Linked DNA regions of Homo sapiens: regions 1 and 2 are each linked to region 3. The links come from fine-mapping of genetic effects on gene expression. A gene starts in region 3. Each other region holds a variant in brackets. All regions are shown on one strand. Distances are between the middles of the regions.

Region 1 (2,756 bases), 74 kb before region 3:
GAATATTATCTAGCTTTAAAAAGAAATGAAATTTGGACACATGCTACACACAACACGGGTGAAGCTTGAGGACATTATGCTAAGTGAAATAAACCAGACACAAAAAGAAAGTACTGTGTGATTCCACTTATATGAGGTACATAGAGGAGTCAAGTTCATAGAGACAGAAAGTAGATGGAGTTGCCAGAGGCTGGGGAAGGGGAGGAGGGAATGATTGCTTAATGGGCATAGCATTATGGTTTTGCAAGATGAAACCATTCCGGAGGTGGATGGTGGTGATGATTGCACAACAATTTGTGTGCATTTAATTGGCACTGGACTGTACACTTACAAATGGTTAAGATGGCAAATGTAATGTAGATTTTACCACAATAAAAAGGGAGGGGGATGATAATAGTATCTGTTTATTGTGAGGATTAACTGAGCTGATACGTGTAGAGTATGGGGCAGTGTCCAGAAGCAGCAGGTGCTCAGTGAATGTCAGTTATGATTGTTCTCTAAACACATTCACCTTAGTAAGATGCACACTCATTTTATTTCTATGTTTATTTTTTTTGAGACAGGGTCTTACTCTGTTGCTCAGGCTGAAATACAGTCGTGTGATCACCGCTCACCATAGCCTTGACCTCCTGGGCCCAAGTGATCTCCCACCTCAGCCTCCCGAGCAGCTGGGACTATAGGCATGTGCCACTATGCCCCACCAATTTTGTTGTATTTTTTGTAGAGGCGGGATTTTGCCATGTTCCCAAGCTGGTCTTGGACTCCTGGTCTTAAGTGATCCTCCTGCCTCGGCCTCCCAGAGTGGTGGGATTATAGGGGTGAGCCACCATGCTTGGCTCATTTTATAAACAATTGTCCCTAAGAGTCCACCATCTGGGCTTGTCCCCACATGATCCCTCATGTGACCCTCCAGTAGCCACCATAGTTGCTTCTGAGGTGTCTCTCATTCTCCCCTGAAAATGGGCAGAATCAGTTAACTTTCACTTAAGAGTTTTTAACCTTAGTTATAAATTAATCCGTTTTGTCGACAAAACTTGAGCCAAGACTCAGCTGACAATAGTCAGAA[G/C]TGCCTCAAGTACTTAGGTATTATATGGTCTGAGGACGGTTGGGTAATCCAGGTCTCCCATCAGGGAGCAAACTCCAGCCAGCCCTGAGAGGCAGGAGGTGCTTGGGCTGAGCTTGGGGCTGGGTGCCAGTGCCAGGCACCCTGGGTCTGGGCAGCACCCTCTTCCTGGCTTTCTGATCTGGTGACGACCCCAGTGCTGTTATCTTTTTTTTTTTTTTTTTTTTGAGATAGCGTCTCACTCTATAGCCCAGGCTGGAGTGCAATGGCAAGATCTCAGCTCATTGCAACCTCCACCTCCCAGCTCAACCGATCCTCCCTACCTCAGTCTCCTGAGTAGCTGGGACTACAGTTGTGTGTGATTGTGCCCAGCTAATTTTCGTATTTTTTTGTAGAGACAGAGTTTTGCCATATTGCCCAGGCTGGTTTCGAACTCCTGGACTCAAGTGATCCACCCGCCTCTGCCTCCCAAAGTGCTGGGATTACATACAGGTGTGAGCCACTGCACCCAGCCAGGCAGCTTTTTATTAGACTTTCACTAGGTCCTTGTAGGTGGAACCTTAGTGGTCACAGTGGGCCAGGAGGGTTTGGCTAGTTTTGGCCTTTGTAGCCATCTTTGAATTACACTATTAGTAGATCAGTCTGGTCTCTAAAAGGAAAAAGACCACAGTCATTATTGGAGTTTGACTATTCCGTTTAAAATGTAGCTTTTAAGTGAGGTACATCATAAAGGATCTACTGGCTGGGCACGGTGGCTCACGCCTGTAAGCCCAGCACTTTGGGAGGCCGAGACGGGCAGATCACTTGAGGCCAGGAGTTTGAGACCAGCCTGGGCAACATGGTGAAACCCCATCTCTACTAAAAATACAAAAATTAGCTGGGCATGGTGGTACGTGCCTGTAATCCCAGCTACTCAGGAGGCTGAGGCAGGACAATCACTTGAACCCGGGAGGCGGAGGTTTCAGTGAGCCAAGATCACTCCATTGCATTCCAGCCTGAGTGACAGAGCAAGACTCTGTTTAAAAAAGACAACGAAAACCGAAAAACAAAGAACAGGTGGAGTCTACTGACTTGCATGAGTCAGGTAATTCATTGACCGGGGCTGGTCAAAAAGATGGGTTGATCCTTACTGTGGAAGCTCTCAGCTGCCCTGCAATACTTTGGAAATAAACCAGGCAAAACACTGCTCAGTGTGCTGCACTCCAGACACAAACAGGAAGCTGCTCTTTCTCTGCTTCCCTCCCCCACAATCAGACTCTTGTAACTCTCTTTTCTTCTTTTTCTAAAATGAATCTGGGAGTTTCCTTTAGCCCCTGTTTTGTGGTCGCCTCCCATACACGTTTTATCTGTCCGTGGCATTTTCTTTTATTTATTGAAAGCACCGTGTCTTAGATCAAGTCTTGAGAAACAGAACCTGAGACAAACATGAATGTGGTTAATTGAACGAGCGCTGTGCAGGAAAAGCTGTACTGGAGAGAGGTAAGCGGACAGATACGGGGAAGAGCTGGGCCCAGCAAAGATGAGGTCTCAAGTAAAGCTTATGTTTGGCTTAATCCACCGGGGACGGTTCTGGAACATAAGCCACACCGCAGAGCTGTGATGTCACACCTTGAGGCGAGGGCCTTGCCTCCTGGTATCAGTCAGTCCTGGCTGTGGGGAGCAAGGTGGCTCCACTCAGTGCAAGGCCATCCTG
Region 2 (2,756 bases), 48 kb before region 3:
CTTTGGGCACCTCTCAGAACTCAGAACCTCTCTGTGAGCAGCCCTCCTTTCTGCCTTCCTCTTTCCTTTCTCCTTATTAAATCACTCTTTTCTCAGTCTTTTGTGCTGGAAACTCAAGTCATATCTAGCTTTTCTCTCTCCATGGCCTCCCCTTTCCTGCTCCAAGTCTGGCTGCTTCTTTCCTTTCATGGCCCTCATTTCCTGGGCCGTCACCTCTAGGCAGGAGTCCCTCCCTCCCGTGTGACCATTGTCAAGGCCTTGACCGTCTTCTGCCTCTGGAGTTTCCTGCCCCACCTCACCAATGTGGCCAGAGAGATCTCCCAAAGTGCAGCTCTGACCTCATGCCCCTAATTCAAAAATAACTGATGGGCTGGGCACGGTGGCTGACACCTGTAATCCCAGCAATTTGAGAGGCCAGGGCAGGTGGATCACCAGAGGTCAGGAGTTCGAGACCAGCCTGGCCAACATAGTGAAACCCCCATCTCTACTAAAAATACAAAAAATTAGCTTGGCATCGTGGTGCGTGCCTGTAATCCCAGCTACTTGGGAGGCTGAGACAGGAGAATTGCTTGAACCCAGGAGATGGAGGTTGCAGTGAGTCGAGATTGCGCCACTGCAGTCTAGCCTGGGTGACAGAGTGAGACTCCGTCTTTAATAAAAAGAAAAAAATGACTGATGGATGAACCAACTGCACATAACCTCCTCTCTGGCTTTCCAGGGCCTCCCACCCCCTGGTCCCTCTGACTATTAAGAGGGACCCTCTTGGCCCCTGCATTTCTTCCCTCCAGCCGCAGTCAGCCCCCTGCCTCTCCTGAGCGTGTGCTGAGCATCTGCCTCCCTGCCTGTGCACACTGTGCTCCTCTGGCTGGATCATCAATTCTCTCTCCTCCCTGCTCTGCTGAAATCCTTTCTATGCTTTAAAATGCAGCTCAAATGCCCCACTGTGCTATTTCTATGCTAAATCCACACTCCTCTCACTGTACACACCACGTCGGCTCAGAAGTGTTTGTTTGCATTCCTTCCTTGGCTTCCTCACTAGACTGAATTCCTGAGAGTGGAGAGGATGTGTCTTGTTTCCACTCCCAGCACTGTCCGGTCCAACCAGCGAGAAGTGATTGCTGGTTTTGGGAGACTCCTTGCTCTCCTTCCTTCTTCGCCCGGGTCTTGGGTGCTGACCTTATGAAAGGGCAGCCTGGGGTTTTTCTTGGCATCACCAGCACATAGCTGGGTTATGCACACAGCACGTTGCCCAGTTCCTGGCTTGGAGGGAGTGTGCTCATGTTTGATGGTTACAACAATGGATGGGAACCCATAGCCAGTGGCTTCGATGCCTCTGTCCTGATGGGAAGCTGAGAAGGAATTGACGGTACCCTTCTTTCTTTTGGGTCACTACCGTCCTGCAGCTTCAGCGTTTCTTTGTGCTGGAGCAAGTGCAGTTGCCAAGACCGCAGAGGAAGGGGGTGGAGGAATGGCCTCAGCCATCTCAGAGGACGGCACTTGTTGCCCCCAGTGCCACTGGCCAAAGACCTTTTCAATTACACCAGA[C/G]GCATTGGCTCTAGGCAGCCTCAGCTTCCTGTCACCACGGACTCTGTTTAATGTCTCAGCTGGACTTGGCTGCATCAGAGATTGCAGGGAATATGGCTGGTCCACTTGGGTGGATTTGCACATGGCCATCCTGTACATGTGCCCTTCTGCCAGCCTGGCAGCCTCTCCCTTCGTCTGCCTTTTCCTTGGAAGTGCATCAGCAGGGGGAGCTGGATCTATCCTCAACCTAATGGAAAGCAGACGTCCCCGCACGCAGAGGAGCAGGCTGCCTTGCAGGGTTTTTCTGGAATAGCTCAGATGGTTGTTATTTTATTCATTGGAATGGAGATGAATTGCTAAATGTACCAGTTAAATGTGATTTAAATTGTATATCTTTGTCAAGTTTTTCACATAAATTCACTCATTAAAAAAAAATTCTTTGCACAGACATTTGCCTTTATTTTTGTGTTCCATGAGCTGGGGAGACAAAATGTTCTAGCTGGGAAGACCATTTTCTGTTTCTAAACTACATGAAGGTTTGCCTTTAAGACATTAGACATAAGACACTAGAAGGCTAAAGTCAGCCTGTTTGTGGGCAGCCTTAAAGCATCCCCAGAGGTCCTTGTTAAAGAACTAGTAGGTCCTCATATAACCATTTATTTTATTTTATTTTTATAATTTATTTTTTAAAGGCAGGGTCTTTCTCTGTTGCCCAGGCTGGAGTGCAGTGGTGTGATTGTAGCTGACTGCAGCCTTGAGCTCCTGGGCCCAAGGTATCCTCCTGTCTTAGCCTCCATAGTACCTGGGACCACAGGTGTGTGCCACCATGTCTGGCTAACTCCCATATAACCATTTCTTCCCTTCCAATTTGCCAGCACTTTGACTATCCTTGTTTCATGATCCTCAGTTCCCATGTTGAACTGAAACTTTTGTATTCCTCACGTTGTTTTATTTTCTGTATTTGCTGATGATTTGGCATCTGCGGCCTTGCTGATCTTGGAGAGACCACCTTTCCCGGGGCCAGCTAATTCCTGGAGATGGTAACCACTTGCCTGCAAGTGTGCCTTCCATATTGGAAACCAGCCAATCCAAGGTCCACACCCCCACCTGTCTCTATGACAGAGGATGAAACTCCGGGCCTCTGCCCTAACTACCCTAGGGCCAGGTATGAGGAAACTAGGGGCAGCTCCTATGCTGCAGAGCCCACTGGCAGTCCTCAGCCTGCTCGCCCT
Region 3 (2,756 bases):
TGGTTACACGGCCCTACGCGGTGGCCCTGCGGTAAACGGCCTCTCAGCCCAAACCCACCCTGGTTACTGAGCATGCCCAGAACTCCCTCCCGGGCCACCAAAGGAGGGGCACCATTTCTGCAGGATTTTGCCACTGTGGAAAGAGAGGCGGAGCTGTCATCGCGCAGAGGCAGGGACTGATACGCGGAAAGGACGTGGAGATGGGAATAAGCAATGAAGGACCAGCATTGACCGTGTTAGGCACACAAATCTAATTGCCCCCTGGTTACTTACCAACCCGGTGGCCGTGGCTCAGCTACTGCACACACACACCAAGTTCCTACACACCTTTCCCCTGCTTGGCCCCACACAATTCATGGCACTCACAGCCCACATCCTACCTCCTACTCCGCACCAGATGCGCACCCGCACTTACTCCCCAAACACGTGGCATCTGGTAACCCGGGAAACGCTGCGACTGTGGCGCAGTGCGCAACAGGGGCGGGGGAACCAGGCGGGGCTCTGGGGCGCAGGGGAAAGCTGGAGATTTGGGAAGGGGGTTTCAGTTTGTTTTTTCTCTCTTTTTTTTTTTTTTTTTTTTTTTTTGGTGGAGGAAGCAGAATAAACCAAATCGCGACACGTTCCTGCGCCCTTCTTGGCGCAGTGGCGCAGACACGGTCCATGGCGCCTTGCGCAATAGAGTCGGTCTGCACCCCGTCTTTAAGTCGTGGCCCTGGGCTGGAATTCCCGACTGCACTCTTTGCTACACCCCCATAGACCGCAGACCTGCGTCTCTCTCTATATTCCTCTCCCATCTGCTACGCCCCTCTGAATTTCTTCCCGCCATGTTGTGTGCCCCCCCCCCACTCCCCCGTCACCCCAACCACACCAAAGTGGATGCACGAAGCGGGAACCTTCTCGTTTCAGTCTCTGCTCCCTGCAGCCTGCCAAGGCGAGTGGACAAACTGAAGCTGGGGTGTCCAGCGTCTTGGCTGCCCCCCTCCTGTCCACCCTGCCTGTGCTATCCTTGCTCATCTTCAGTGCCATCCCGCTTCCCACACCCTGAGTAGCCTGGCGCCCGGCTTGTCCCCTTTTCCCATCCATCAGCTCACACCCAGGGTAACGGGGCGGGACCCCTATCCACAGTGCGCCCTCGCCCCCGGCCCACCTCCGCCATGCGGCGGGGCAGAGGCGCCTGGGCCAGGCAGGTGGAGGAGAGGGGCACTGGGGCTGGGGGCTGCGTCCTCCGGTCCTCACTCCGCGTGCCCTGCCCGATACTTACCCAGGCGCGGAGAGCGGTCAGCGGGCCCTCCGCTCCGCATCCATTAGCTGGTGGTCTGGCCGCTTCACTTCCGGAGCGCGGGGCTAGGGGCGGTGCCGCCCTCCCCTCTCTCTCTCCTTCCCTCCCCTCCAGCCCTCCCCTGAGCACCGCTCCCCTCCCCGGCGCCGCGCCCCGCCCGCGCCTCCCTCCTCCCAGCGCTGCCGGGAACTGGCAGCCTTTCGGCTCCCGCAGCCGCAGCGGACGCCCTCCCAGATCCAACTTTGCCGCTTCCCCGAGCTCGCGCTGTAGCCGCGGGGGGCGTGGGCAGGGAGGGGAGAAGCGGGGTCAGGGGGAGGGACCGGGAGGGTGGGTCGCCGGCTCGCCAGCCCTCCTTCCTTTCTGTGCACCTTGCGGTGGGCGGCGAACGGCAGCCGCGGCAGCAGCTAGGGGGCTTGTGCACACAGCGAGGGAGACTTAGGGACTGGCAGACGGACGGACGGACGGCGAGGACCCTACCCGAGCCCCCGAGCCATGGCCGAGAGAAAGCAATCCGGGAAGGCGGCAGAGGACGAAGAGGTCCCTGCTTTTTTTAAAAACCTGGGCTCCGGCAGCCCCAAGCCCCGGCAGAAATTCTGTGGCATGTTCTGCCCGGTGGAAGGGTCCTCGGAGAACAAGACCATCGACTTCGACTCGCTGTCGGTGGGCCGGGGCTCGGGGCAGGTGGTGGCTCAGCAGCGGGACGTCGCCCACTTGGGCCCGGACCCGCAGCCGCCGTACTCGCGGCAGGGCCGGCGCGCCGGCGGAGAGCCATCTGTTGAATCGGGCCGGAAGGTGGAGATCCGGAGGGCCTCGGGCAAAGAAGCCCTGCAGAACATCAACGACCAGGTCGGTGTGGGGGTTGGGGGTGGAGACGGAGGACGGGGCGCGGGGATCGCCCCTCCCTCGCCCCTGAGCCCGGCGCGCCCGCCTTCATGCCCCGCCCTGGACCTCGCCTCCCGCATCTGCACGCGCACCCCGCCCTACCCGCCCCTTCTCCGCGCAGGGTGCGGCGAGGCTCGGGCTGGGCGGTGGGCGGCCGTGCGCCCACAAAGGCTGCCCGCGTCTCCTTGAGCTTGAGAGGTGGGGCGTGGGCATAGGGAATGGGCTGATCCCCTGCTGGGGCGGGCGGTGGTCGTCTGGGAGGGGGTTGGCCGCGGTTCCATTCTTCTGAAACCCTCCCGGGCGGCTTCCGATTGCAGCTGCGGCTGGGTGCCCCACCCTTTTTTTGAGCGGCTCAGAGCGTGCGGTGGAGGCTTTGCGTGAAGGCCCGCGGCTCCCCGGTGGTCGGGAGGGGCGGGGGTTCGGACGGCCGCTCCCTACAGCCTCCGCCCGCGCCTTCTGCGCTCACGTCCCGAGCTCCGAGGCCAGGACCATGGTCAGCGCCCCCCGGACCCCCTCCGAGCACCGCACCGCCCTTGACTCCTGCTCGCAGCGTGAGAAGAGCCAGGAAGGCTGTGGAGTCACCCGAGGAAACCGA

Direction of the effects. Alleles are on the strand shown, and positions count from the first base shown. SD is a standard deviation of normalised expression in the study named. Not every link is listed here.
For the expression in cerebellum of the gene that starts at base 1,318 in region 3, G is the high allele of the variant in region 2 and C is the other (large effect, 1.2 SD a copy in GTEx).

What was found.
Region 1: its variant is fine-mapped to the expression of PNMA2 in lung (TOPMed, PIP above 0.99).
Region 2: its variant is fine-mapped to the expression of PNMA2 in cerebellum (GTEx, PIP above 0.99). The same link has a PIP of 0.9 or more in cerebellar hemisphere.

The regions. Positions count from the first base shown.
Region 1 is chr8:26,438,163-26,440,918 of GRCh38, forward strand. No RefSeq gene overlaps it. Among named protein-coding and RNA genes, the nearest start is that of BNIP3L, 56 kb to the left of the region's middle. The variant G/C (reference allele first, on the strand shown) is at 1,067.
Region 2 is chr8:26,464,706-26,467,461 of GRCh38, forward strand. No RefSeq gene overlaps it. Among named protein-coding and RNA genes, the nearest start is that of PNMA2, 48 kb to the right of the region's middle. The variant C/G (reference allele first, on the strand shown) is at 1,546.
Region 3 is chr8:26,512,555-26,515,310 of GRCh38, forward strand. It overlaps PNMA2 (PNMA family member 2), which reads right to left and starts at 1,318. Exons shown (of 3, transcript NM_007257.6): 1 at 1,262-1,318. It overlaps DPYSL2 (dihydropyrimidinase like 2), which reads left to right and starts at 1,477. Exons shown (of 14, transcript NM_001197293.3): 1 at 1,477-2,125. The coding sequence starts at 1,772. RefSeq lists an enhancer at 1-432.